Linked DNA regions of Homo sapiens: region 1 is linked to region 2. A link means that fine-mapping ties the variant in region 2 to the expression of a gene that starts in the linked region. Tissue or cell type: whole blood. Region 2 holds a variant in brackets; the other region holds the start of a gene. All regions are shown on one strand. Distances are from middle to middle.

Region 1 (5,119 bases), 110 kb before region 2:
AAGGTTGCAGCAGCCCTTTTAAAGCTTTTGACACCCCCATCCCATATCCCCTTCACAACACAATCAACACTAGCGAGTCAGACTTTCAGCCCCTTTAATTAGGTGCTCTGAGAAGAGGTCAGAATGGCAGGCAGGGGGTGGGGAAGGCGGTGCTTCTTGAGCCCCACTTAGCAACTGGTCACTCATCCTCTGGCAGCTGGATCTTGCTGGGGTCGAAGCAGTTGGATTCCATGATGGGAAGGCCATTGGCCTCTCGGTATTTCACAAGCCTCTCAGCTTCGCGGCGGGACCACTCTTTCATCCTGGTAGTGCAAATAGCAGGGGTAGACGTGAGGGAGCCTCAACTGATACCAATCCCTCATCTCAGCTCCCCATTCCCAATGGTGCAGGAACAAAACTCCTGGCAGAATCCCCTTCAACCTCCATCCCTGCCTCTGCCTCTTACCCATCCCACGCTCTTGGACACCCTGTGCACCTGTAGTCAGGCAGATAGGCCACAAAGGTGCTGCCAAGGACCAGGATGATGGAGACGCCAAAGAAGAAGACAAGTCGCATGTTCCAGACGTCCAAAACGGGGTCCTTGTCATAACCATGGGAGTCTGGGTTCTGTGGAGAAATAGAGGTCAATGAGGGCTTCCTGCTGCTCCACAAAGCCTTATTCTGGCCCTGCATAACTTGGTCTCCATGTGCCCCTCTCACTAAATTCCTCTGTTTCCATTCTTGGGATATGTCAAGCTCCTTCCCACTGCAGGGCCACTGCACTTGCTGCTCTCTCTGCCTGGAAAGCCTTTCTTCCAGCTCTAGTCATGGCTGGATCTGTCTCCTCATTCAAGGTTTTAGATTCATCACCACTTCCTTCAGGAGGCACTCCCTAGTTACCTTGTCTTTCAAAGTTGAAGCATAGGAAACTGCTATTTTTATAGGTCACAAATGGTTGAATACTGGCAATTTCTTATAGCTCAAGCTAATGAAATAGCCCCCTACACCCAAGTCATTCTCTATCCACTTATCTTGCTTAACTTTGTCTTCACATCCTCTCTTCCTTCTGTCTCTTTCTAGTCTATGTTTACCTAAGTAGCATACTTTCCCCATTCTCTGTATATCATACATTCTCATGTTATATTATCTATTATACTACTTTGTATTATTGTTTTCTAATATTTTACTGTTTATTTTCTGTCTTCCCCACTATCATGTAAGCTCTATGAGAGCATGGGCTTTGTCTGATTTCCACACTGCTGTATCCCCAGGGCCCTGAACTGAGCCTGGCATACAGCAGGCCCTCAATACATATTTACAGAATGAACAAGCATCCTATATATCCAAGCCCCTTAACCAGAGGTTAGTATTGATGAAGTACTTATTATGTGCCAGTCTTTTCACATAGAAACACCTCACAATATCTCAGTGAGGTGAAACATGGCAATAATAAACACATTCTAGTGCTGAGTACATACTTACGAAGTGCCAGCTGCTGTTCTGACCATTTTTACTCATTTAATTACATGAGGCAGGTGGGGTGTCCTATTTTTTAGAAGGTGTCCTATTACTGTTCCCATCTTACAGACAAAGAAACTGAGGCACCAAGGGTTTATGCTACCAAGATCACACGGGTGGGTAACCGTCAGTGCTGCCTGATTTCACAGCGTCTGCTATTAATACAGCACAGCAGACCTGGTAGCCCTAAATTCAAATACCAGTTCCACCTCCACCATGTATTCAGTTATGTGAGCTAGGGCAATCCACTTAACATCTCTGTGCCTCAGTTTCCTCATCTGTAGGATGAGTATAATAATAGAGCCCACCTCGAAATGGGGTTTGTTTCGAGTATAAGATGAGCTAATGCATGTCAAGTGTTTAGAACACAGACGGGGCCCGGAGCGGTGGCTCATGCCTGTAATCCCAGCACCTTGGGAGGCCGAGGCGAGAGGATCGCTTGAGCCAGGAGTTCGAGACCAGCCTGGGCAACATAGCGAGATCTCGTCCCTATAAAAAAAAAAAAAAGAATGCAGACGGCAACGAGCAAGTGCCATATCGGTGTTTAGTATTATCGTTGTACTATACTGCTTCTAACGTGTTTTGAGCGCTGTCCACTTGAGGTGTGATTTCTGTCTGCAAAATAAAACCAATCCTGCCTCTGGCCCTGGAACGAAGATACCGAGAGACAAAGGAGGAACACAAGGTAGGCAAAATTCCCAAGTCTTCTAGGCTTTCGCCGGCCGCGCAGTCCTCTACTGCCTAAGAACGTCCTCTACAGCGCCCCATCTGCCGATCCCGGACTGACCCCTTCGGGGTTCCGTCCCCACTACCCCCCCCCCCCCCCCCGCCTCTCACCTTCTCATACAAGTTTTCGTCCTCGGGTTCTGGGTCCTCTTGCCACGGTGTGGTCGGTTCTGGGGGCCGCTTTCCCGCCACAGCGGACGGGGCGACCACAGTCCTGGAGAAGCTAGATTCCCAGCGGACGCGGGCGGCCGGGAGCCCTCGCGTCGCCGCTGCCGCCAAAAGACGGCGAGCGCTCAAACCAAACAGCCCAGCCGCCATGACAGATGGTGCTGCAGGGTCTCAGGGGCGGGGAAAGAAATGCGACTGTGCGCAGCTGCAGTGGGTGCGAGCGCGACAATCATCGCCCCGCCTCCGCCACGCTATATAGGTCCCAGATCTGATTTGGTTTTCCAATGAGGCGGGGCGTTGAGCAACCCTCTTTGCCTCCAGTTGTCGTGGCTTCGTGGGGCCAACCATTTTCGGCCAGGCTGAGAAATTTCTTATTGATGGGTCTGCTCATTTCCTGCATAGGAAGAAATCGGTGACATTTGGGTGGATACAGTTCCCAGCCAATCGCCCCGAGTTCCCTCGCCCACTGGGGAAAGAGGCAGAGCTTCCGCTAGTCTTTCATCTTCAAAGGAAATCAAGCTTCTAAAAAGCGGGCCCTGCCGAATTGGCTAATAGCTACTCCTTTTCTCCACTAGGGGAGCGTTCGCAAGGGGTGTGGGGAGGTGGCCAGCGCTTGCCAATCAGAGGAGGCCAGGGCTGTCCCCTAGCGGGCGGTGACCAATCGCCGGGGCCGGCCAGAGCGCGCTTCCTTAGTAGGTGGATGGTGGTCGGAGCGCCGACTCCCTTCTCGTCGTCGCCATTTTGAGCTGGTGACTGTGGCCGGCTGGGAGTAGGCGGCAGTGAGTTTCCCTGGGAGGGCAGCGCGCTTGGCGCTTCTCCCCTCCCCCCGATCTGCCTCCAGTCTCGGACTTGGTTGTTGCGCGCTCCGGCTCCGGCTGAGCTGGGAGAGTTGGAGGAGGTGGCGGCGGGCAGAGGTGATGTCTGGGAGCCCTTCCTTGACAGCCCGGGCCGAGAAGGTGAGCGTCGACGCTGGTCGTGGGGGCGGAGGTAAGGGGCCCGGGGCGGGGACGTAGAGGAGGCGCGAGGGCGGACTTCGGGTCGGGGGAGATGCGCGGAACGGAGGGGTTGGTGCAATGTCTCAACCCGGGAGGGTTTTTTTTTTTTTGGTTTTTTTTTTTTTTTTTTTTTTTTTTGGTGTGAGCAAAGGCGCGTGCGCGACTGGGACATGGGATGGGTGCATGCGGGTTGGGGGAAGGGAGGGACGGATGGGAGTGGGCTACTGTGGATCACTGTGTCGGCTACATCGAAGTTTATCAGTGGGGAAGCGGTTGTCTGCGACTTTGAGTTTGTGCATAGGAGAGGGGATGCTGCTCTGTGTTACTCTGGTGTTTATCGGTCCATGGGGAAATATTCTGTGGTTCTGGTCTCTATTCCTGGGGGATCGGAGGGGGGATGTGACTCTGGTCTTTACCCTTTGAGGGGGGGCGGTCTGTGACTCTGATCCTTATCCATGGGGCGGGGCTTGGGGGACGACTGTCTTTTGATTGACCCTAACCCACTTATTGGGTGGGAAGGGGCATGCAGGGAATGTGTGTGTGACTCATTGCCCCTTCTTTTGGGGAGTTTGTATCTGTGACACTGACGCTCATCCATGGAAAGGGGACCCACTGTGTAATTGTGGTCCTTACTGTGTGTTCCTTCTGTGATGTGGGCCCGTAGTTATTTGGGGCTCGTGTCTGTGACTGGCCCTTGGCTGTGGTGGATGTTACTGTGTGACTCTGGCCCCTTTGCCAGAGTCTCTTGAAGGTTTTTGTGCTCTCAGACGCCAGTGCCTCTGTGTGATTCTAACTCTTGCCCACCTGGGAGCAGGTAACTCGGGTTCCCTGTGGCTTGAGGAGGAAGAGAAAATTGGAGTGTGTTTGTCTGTGTATGTGTGTGCACGAGCATAGAGCAAAGGTGTGGCAGCAACCTAGTGTTGAGCAGGTGCTATTATTGCCTGGCTTTACCTGCTTCTTATTCAGAGGGTGGGGCCTGAAGATCTGGGATTCATCCTGACCTCTGGCTGGGTCACAGGGTTCTCAGGACTCCCTGAGTTCTCACCACAGCCCTGAGGGTTGGATGAAGTGGCTGCTGCTCCATCCCAATAGAAGAGCACAGTGGTTCAGAACAGCCTCCAAAAGGGCCCCTTTTGCCTCTGGAAACCGGGCTTGAGCCCTGGGGAGGGAACCACCTTAGGACCGGGCTGCACATAAGAGACAGGGCTCAGGGCTGAGCCAGTTGCTGTGTGAGGGCCAAGGCTGTGTTGGCCAGGAGCCCAGGGAGGTGGCAGCTGTCTCGTCGCCAAGTTCGCCCCTTCACACACCCCCCCAAGAGCCTTTCATGGTCTTTTGCTGCCTTATAGGGGACAGCCAGCAGCTTGTTGGGAGGATGAGATGGTCCCTTGGGGCCTGTGGAAGGAGCCTGGGGCCCCCATTGTTGTGAAGTCTTGTCTGATGTGCTGAATCTCAGGCAAGACTTTCAGCCCTGAGAGTCCCCTACCCCCACCCTGGGATGCAGCCCCAGGCTTGAATTTGTCTACCTGTCTTAGGTGGCAAAGCCCTGATCACACTGTGGGTGGCCCCGCCAGGTCTCTCTGCAAGATGCCCCCTGTCTGCTGAAGTCCTTGCTGTTTTCTAGGGCAGTGGGCTCTAGCCTTATGTTTGCGGGGAAAGGGAGGAGCAGGCCAAGTAGGGGCTACCTTCATACTGTGATGCACAGGAGTGCTGGGAGCTGGAAGACAATGTCCCTG
Region 2 (7,590 bases):
TTCGCCAACTCTCCAGATGCCAACTGGGTGTCCAACAATTCAATTCAATTCTAACACTAACTACCTGGCATTGGTGTCAGACCCCACAAGTTAAGGGCTTGGTCCCACATAACTGCCTCCACTTGAGACACCAATTGAAAACCCTAGGCCTCCCATACTTCTGATTGATCGGCTGTAAATCAGGGGTTCCCACAACCCCTTCCTCGGGTTGGATAATTTGTTAGAATGGCTCACAGAACTCAAGAAGGCACATTATTTACTATGACTGGTTTATTATAAAGGATACGACTCAGGGACAGCTAAATGGAAGAGATGTATAGGACTAGATATGGAAGGGGCACCCTCCCAGCATGTTGATGTGTTTACCAACCCAGAAACCCTCCAAACCCTTCATTCAGGGGTTTTTATGGACTTTCCATCATGTAGGCATGATTGATGAAGCCATTGGCTGGAGATGGATGATTACCTCAATCTCCAGACCCTCTCCCCTCCCCAGAGGCCCAGGGTGGGGCTGGCAAACAGCCCTTATTTGAAGCTATCTAGGGGCCCTCCAAGAGTCACCTCATTAGCATAAACTCAGGGATGATCATAAACTCAGGGATGATTGAAAGAGGCATGTTATGAACAACAAGATGATCCTCTCACCTCGCCATTCAGGAAATTGTAAGAGTTTTAAGAGCTCTGTGCCAGGAACCAGGAACAAAGACCAAATATATACTTACTCTTATATCACAATATCACACATAAAGTTATAATAATAATTGTATTAATGTCCTTCACTGCTAATTCTAACATCCTTGTTGGTTCTGAGTCTGTTTTGATTGATTATTCTCCTCATTATGGGTCCTTTTTCCCTTCAAAGGCATTCCTGGTAATCTTTGGTTGGATCTCAGACATTGTGCATTTTACCTTATGGTTGCTGGATATTTTGTATTCCTATAAGTATCCTGGAGCTTTTGTTCTGGGATGCATTTCATTGTTTCTTTCTTTCTTTCTTTCTTGGCTGTTGTGAATAGTGCTGCAGCAAGCATGGGAGTGCAGATATCTCTTCAACATGATTTCATATCCTTCGGATATATACCCAGTAGTGGGTTTGCTGGATCATATGGTGGTTCTATTGTTAACTTTTTGAGGAACCTCCATACACTTTTCCATAATGGCTATACTAATTTACATTCCCACCAACAGCCTGCAAGTGTTCCCTTCATGCCATATCCTCACCAACACTTGTTATCTTTTGCCTTTCTGATAATAGTCATTCTACCAGGTGTGAGGTGGTATCTCATTGTGGTTTTGATTTGTATTTCACTGATGATTAGTGATGTTGAGCATTTTTCTCATATACCTGTTGACCATTCATATGTCTTCTTTTGAGAAATGTCTATTCAGTTTCTTTGCCCTTCTTTTTTTCTTTTCTTTTTTTTTGAGACGGAGTCTCACTCTGTCGCCCAGGCTGGAGTGTAGTGGCACAATCTCGGCTCACTGCAACCTCTGTCCCCTGGGTTCAAGTGATCCTCCTGCCTCAGCCTCCCTGGTAGCTGGGACTACAGGGGCACTCCAACATGCGCAGCTTTTGTATTTTTAGTAGAGATGGGGTTTCACCCTGTTGGCCAGGCTGGTCTCGAACTCCTGATCTCAAGTGATCCACCTGCCTCGGCCTTTCAAAGTGCTGGGATTATAGGCGTGAGCCACCGTGCCCGGCCAACTTTATTCTTTTTGCTCAAGATCTCTTGGCTTTTAGGAGCCTCTCTCTCTCTCTCTCTTTTTTATTTTCCTTTTTCCTTAGATCCAGGGACAGACTGGATGTTCTGGGTCTTTTGTGATTCCATATAAATTTTAGGATTGTTTTTTCTATTTCTGTGAAGAATGTCATTGTTTTCTGGGTTTTTTTTTTTTTTTTTTTTTTTTTGACACAGCGTCTCACTCTGTCACCCAGGTTGGAGTGCAGTGGTGTGATCTGGGCTCACTGCAACCTCTGTCTCCCAGGTTGAAGCAATTCTTATGCCTCAGCCTCCCGAGTAGCTGGGATTACAGGCGCCTGCCACTATGCCCGGCTAATTTTTGTATTTTTAGTAGAGACGGGGTTTCACCAGGTTGGCCAAGCTGGTTACGAACTCCTGACCTCAAGTGATCCACCCGACTCGGCCTCCCAAAGTGCTAGGATCACAGACGTGAGCCACTGCGCCCGGCTGGTATTTTTTGTTTTTTGAGACAGAGTCTCACTCTGTTGCCCAGGCTGGGGTGCAGTGGCATGATCATGGCTTACTGCAGCCTTGATCTCCTGGGCTGAAGGGTTCTTCCCACCACAGCCTCCCAAGTATCTGGGACCACAGGTGTGCACCACCACACCTGGCTATTTTTTAAAAATATTTTTTGTAGAAACAAAGTCTTACTGTATTGCCCCGGCCAGTCTCAAACTCCTGAGCTGAAGAGATCATCCCACCTCAGCCTCCCAAAGTGCTGGGATTACAGGTGTGAGCCACCACGCCCAGTCAAATTCTTTCTTCTGAGGAGGCAAGAATTGAGGTTGCTGTAGACCTGGACAGATTTGCCACTGCTAACAGGCTCACATCATTTGTTTCCACTGTCCTCCATTTTCTGATGTTATTGTTTTGAAAGCTGTCATTGCATGTATTTTGTGTAAATCTATTGTTTGAAGCAGGTAGTAAGTCTTGTCCCTGTTACTCCATCTTGACCAGAAGCAGAAGTGCTTTCCCACAACTTTTACAAATGTACTTTGCTCTTCTTCTTTTTCATTTCTTGAGATAGAGGCTTACTTAGCTCAGTACTTATTCAAACTTTTTGCCTTGATATGTTTCTAATCATAGATACTAAAAGACAGCAAAAACTCCATATACATATATTTATTACTTTTAACACTGTTGGATTTTTATAATTCTTTATATCCAAAAAATGTAATCCATTTTGTGAAATGCTTACAGTCTTTTTTGTGTGTGCCATCACAGCTCTCATCATTAAAAATGTTTCCTTAGCAACCGGACAAAAATTGATATCAACATGGGTACCTATATGATTTTAAAGTTTTTCTTACTGCACCTTTTAAAAGTTGCACATTCTGGCCGGGCGCGGTGGCTCACGCCTGTAATCCGAGCACTTTGGGAGGCTGAGGTGGGCGGATCGGTTAAGGTCAGGAGTTTGAGACCAGCCTGGCCAGCATGGTGAAACCCCATCTCTACTGAAAATACAAAAATTAGCTGGGCGTGGTGGCGTGCTCCCGTAATCCCAGCTATTCAGGAGGCTGAGGCAGGAGAATCGCTTCAACCTGGGTGGCAGAAGTTGCTGTGAGCTGAGATTGCACCACTGCACTTCATCCAGCCTGGGCAACAAAGTGAGACTCCATCTCAAAAAAATAAAAAAATAAAAGGCTGGGCGCAGTGGCTCACACCTGTAATCCTAGCACTTTGGGAGCCTGAGGCGGGCAGATCACGAGGTCAGGAGTTCGAGACCAGCCTGGTCAATATGGTGAAACCCCGTCTCTACTAAAACTACAAAAATTAGCTGGGCATAGTGGCAGGCGCCTGTAATCCCAGCTACTCGGGAGGCTGAGGCATAAGAATTGCTTCAACCTGGGAGGCAGAGGTTGCAGTGAGCCCAGATCACACCACTGCACTCCAGCCTGGGCGATATAGCAAGACTCCATTAAAAAAAAAAAAAGTTGCACATTCTTTCAGTGTAATAAGGAGATAGGACAGAGAGAAATACAGAAATTAAAAAGAGAAGAAGGCAGATGAAAACAAGGAGAAGGAGGAATAGAAAAGTAGGGAAAATGAGTAGCACATGGACGACCTTTACAGAAATGGCGTGTAATCCCTCACCATTTCTGAATCTTTAGTTAAAGTTTCCATAGAATGCAATGCATAGCTGATCATGGTCCACATGCATTTGCCACCCACCCCACTGATCTGATCACTACCTGTGTTAGCTACTCTATAAAATGGTAAAAACAATATGTAACAACACCATAGAAGAAAACTTAAGTATGAATATAGCTTTTTGGTATTGTTAAAAATGAACAGTGTCTGAAACCAGGGTTCCAAGGGACCACCCAGTTTTTTCCCATTGTCATAGACAATCTATGTCCTAACTTCTGAGCAGCTCTAGAATCTTGTTTCTTTTCATCCTAGAACCCAACAACATTTTGGTGTTGGTTTGCTATAGCACTACCCTGGCTGAGGGTATTTTCTGCTTCTTTCTTTCCCAGGCAGTAGGCTTCTCTGTGCCTAGCTGGTAATGGGGCAGAGGTGGAGAGGACTCTTCTCTTTCCAAAAGGAAATTGTTCTGAAGGCAGCAGATTTTGTGTCCTCTTGGTAACACTACTGCCTCTTCCCAAACTCCTGTCCTTGTCTCCAGCTTTAAACTCATCTCTTTTCTTTTCTTTTTTCTTTTCTTTTCTTTCTTCTTCCTCTTTCTTTCTTTCTTTGTTTTTCGCTCTCTCTCTTTCCTTCCTTCCTTCCTTCTTTTCTTTTCTTTTTTTTTTATGAG[A/G]CAGTGTCTCGCTCTGTTGTCCAGATTGGAGTTCAGTGGCACGATCACAGCTCACTGCAACCTCTGCCTCCCAGGATCAGGTGATCCTCACATCTCAGCCTCCCAAGTAGCTGGGACTACGAGCGTGTGGCACCATGCCAGGCTAATTTTTATATTTTTTGTAGAGACAGGGTCTCGCCATGTTGCCCAGGCTGGTCTGGAATTCCTGGGCTCAAGCTATCCTCCCACCTTGGTCTCCCAAAATGCTGAGATTACAAGCATAAGCTACAAAAATACTTTAATAATTATTAAAAACTGTGGACTGCTGGCTGGGCACGGTGGCTAACACCTGTAATCCCAGCACTTTGGGAGGCCGAGGGGGGCAGATCATGAGGTCAGGAGTTCTAGACCAGTCTGGCCAACATGGTGAAACCCCGTCTCTACTAAAAATACAAAAATTAGCTGGGCATGGTGGAGCATGCCTATAATCCCAGCTACTCTGGAAGCTGAGGTAGGAGAATTGCCTGAACCCAGGAGGCAGAGGTTGCAGTGAACTGAGATCACGCCACTGCACTCCAGCCTGGGCAACAGAGCGAGACTCCGTCTCAAAACAACAACAACAACAAAAACTGTGCACTGCTCCAATGACATAAAAGCAATAATGTATAGGGGACTTCAGAAATTACAAAGGGCGGCCAGACACAGTGACTCATGCCTATAATCCCAGCACTTTGGGAGGCTGAGGTGGGCAGATCATCTGAGGCCTGTGTCTACTAAAAATACAAAAATTAGCTGGGCGTGGTGGTAGACGCCTGTAATCCTAGCTATTCGGGAGGCTGAGGCAGGAGAATTGCTTGAACCCGAGAGGTGGAGGCCGCAATGAGCTGAGATTGCACCACTGCACTCCAGCCTGGACAACAAGAGTGAAACTCCGTCTCAAAAAAAAAAAAAAAAAAAAAAAAGAAAAGAAAAGAAAAAGAAATTGCAAAGGGCTTTCAGGTAGATTCTCGTTTGTCCTCTGTGATAATGCTCTGGGATGTGGAGCAGCCGCTTGGGAGGTTGGGCATCTCGCCCAAGGTCATGTAGCACGTAAGGGGTATCTTTAGCTAGGTCTTCTCTCCAGAGCCACACCCTTTCTACTGTGTTGCTTCTAACATGTACCTAAAAGCAATTTTATTTGCTTACAGTAAAAGAAACTACTTTTCAGTCCTCCTAACGAATATGATTATATGTAAGCTTAAAAAAAAAAGGAAATGTGAGCCAGACATGATGGCTCATGCCTGTAATCCCAGCACTTTGGGAGGGGCAGGTGGATCCCTTGAGCCCAGGAGTTGGAGACCAGCCTGGGCACATAGTGAGACCTCATCTTTACAAAAAAAAAAAAATTACCAGGTGTGGTGGGGTGCATCTATAGTCCCAGCTATTTGGGAGGCTGAGCCAGGAGGATTGCTTGAGCCCAGGAGGTTCTAAGCTGCCATAAGCCGAGATGGTGCCACTGCACGCTATCCTGGGTGATAAAGTGAGACCCCTGTCTCAAAAAATAAAAATAAATAATTTTTTTTTTTTTGAGGCAGGTTCTCGCTCTGTCACCCAGGCTGGAGTGCAGTGGTGCGATCTCGGCTCACTGCAAGCTCCGCCTCCCGGGTTCATGCCATTCTCCTGCCTCAGCCTCCCAAGTAGCTGGGACTACAGGCACCCACCACCACGCCCAGCTAATTTTTTGTATTTTAGTAGAGTCGGTGTTTCACTGTGTTAGCCAGGATGGTCTCAATCTCTTGACCTCGGGATCCGCCCGCCTCAGCCTCCCAAAGTGCTGGGATTACAGGTGTAAGCCACTGCACCCGGCCAATAAAAAAATTTTAAGAGGCCGGGCGTGGTGGCTCATGCCTGTAATCCCAACACTTTGGGATGCCAAGGCGGGCAGATCACGAGGTCAGGAGTTCGAGACCAGCCTGGTCAATATAGTGAAACCCTGTTTCTACTAAAAATACAAAAATTAGCCAGGAGTGGTGGTGGATGCCTGTAGTCCCAGCTACTCAGGAGGCTGAGGCAGGAGAATCGCTTGAACCCGGGAGGCGGAGGTTGCAGTGAGCCGAGATTGGGCCACTGCACTCCAGCCTGGGAGACAGAGCGAGACTGTCTCAAAAAAAAAAAAATGTAAGAAAAGAAATGTATTCCTATTATTCAAAGGGGTGAGCCATGTGAATAGGGTCAACTCTTTAGAAATCAGTTAGTTATTCTAGATCAGCAGTCCCCAACTTTTTTTGGCACAAGGGACCGGTTTCATGGAAGATGATTTTTCCATAGACCAGGGGTTGGAGGGGGATGGTTTCAGGATGATTCAAGCCATTACATTATTGTGCACTTTATTTCCATTATTATTATTACATTGTCATACACAATGAAATAATTATACAACTCACTATAATGTAGAATCAGTGGGAGCCCTGAGCCTATTTTCCTGCAACTAGGCAGTCCCATCTGGGGCTGATGGGAGACAGTGACAGATCATCAGGTATTAGATTCTCATAAGGAGAACCTGCATAGTTAACAATAGGGTCTGAATTCCTATGATAATCTACCGCCGCCACTGCTCTGATGGGAGGCGAAGCTCAGGCGGTAATGCTGGCTCACCCACTGCTCACCTCCTGCTGTGTGGCTGGTTCCTAACAGGCCATGGACTGGTATGGACCCACGGACCAGGGATGGGGACCCCTGCTCTAGATCATCTTATTCTTTAGCTTTACTTCTTTCTACCCTGCCATGGTGGGATTAATGACATCTTAGCTTGTGAAGGGCATTCCATCACAGGATGGGCAAGGCAGCAGATGTTGCGAATTTGCTGGGATTGCTACTTTATTTGTGGCTCTGGCATGAGGTTTGAAAGCAACCAGTAACTGACTTTCTCTAGGATTTTTGTTTTCAAATTTCAGCTATTTGCAGTATCTCTTTGTCTTAATCCGGAATCCAAAAACTGGAGGTTTGTTATTCTGTTGCTGGAACAAAGAGAGAACATCACCTGCTTTGACTGGTACAATGTATTTCATCTATGTCTCCATTCCTACCTCCCATAACCACCAAGGTCACAGGACTGCCTCCCCATTTTTA

The links. PIP is the estimated chance that this variant, and not a neighbour inherited with it, causes the effect.
Region 1: NDUFB11 starts here. The variant in region 2 is fine-mapped to the expression of NDUFB11 in whole blood (TOPMed, PIP 0.97).

The regions. Positions count from the first base shown.
Region 1 is chrX:47,142,139-47,147,257 of GRCh38, forward strand. NDUFB11 (NADH:ubiquinone oxidoreductase subunit B11) reads right to left here and starts at 2,564. Exons shown (of 3, transcript NM_001135998.3): 1 at 2,335-2,564; 2 at 476-606; 3 at 78-302. The coding sequence starts at 2,541. The coding sequence ends at 179. It overlaps RBM10 (RNA binding motif protein 10), which reads left to right and starts at 3,083. Exons shown (of 24, transcript NM_005676.5): 1 at 3,083-3,347. RefSeq lists an enhancer at 3,107-3,376.
Region 2 is chrX:47,254,697-47,262,286 of GRCh38, forward strand. No RefSeq gene overlaps it. Among named protein-coding and RNA genes, the nearest start is that of USP11, 25 kb to the left of the region's middle. The variant A/G (reference allele first, on the strand shown) is at 4,504.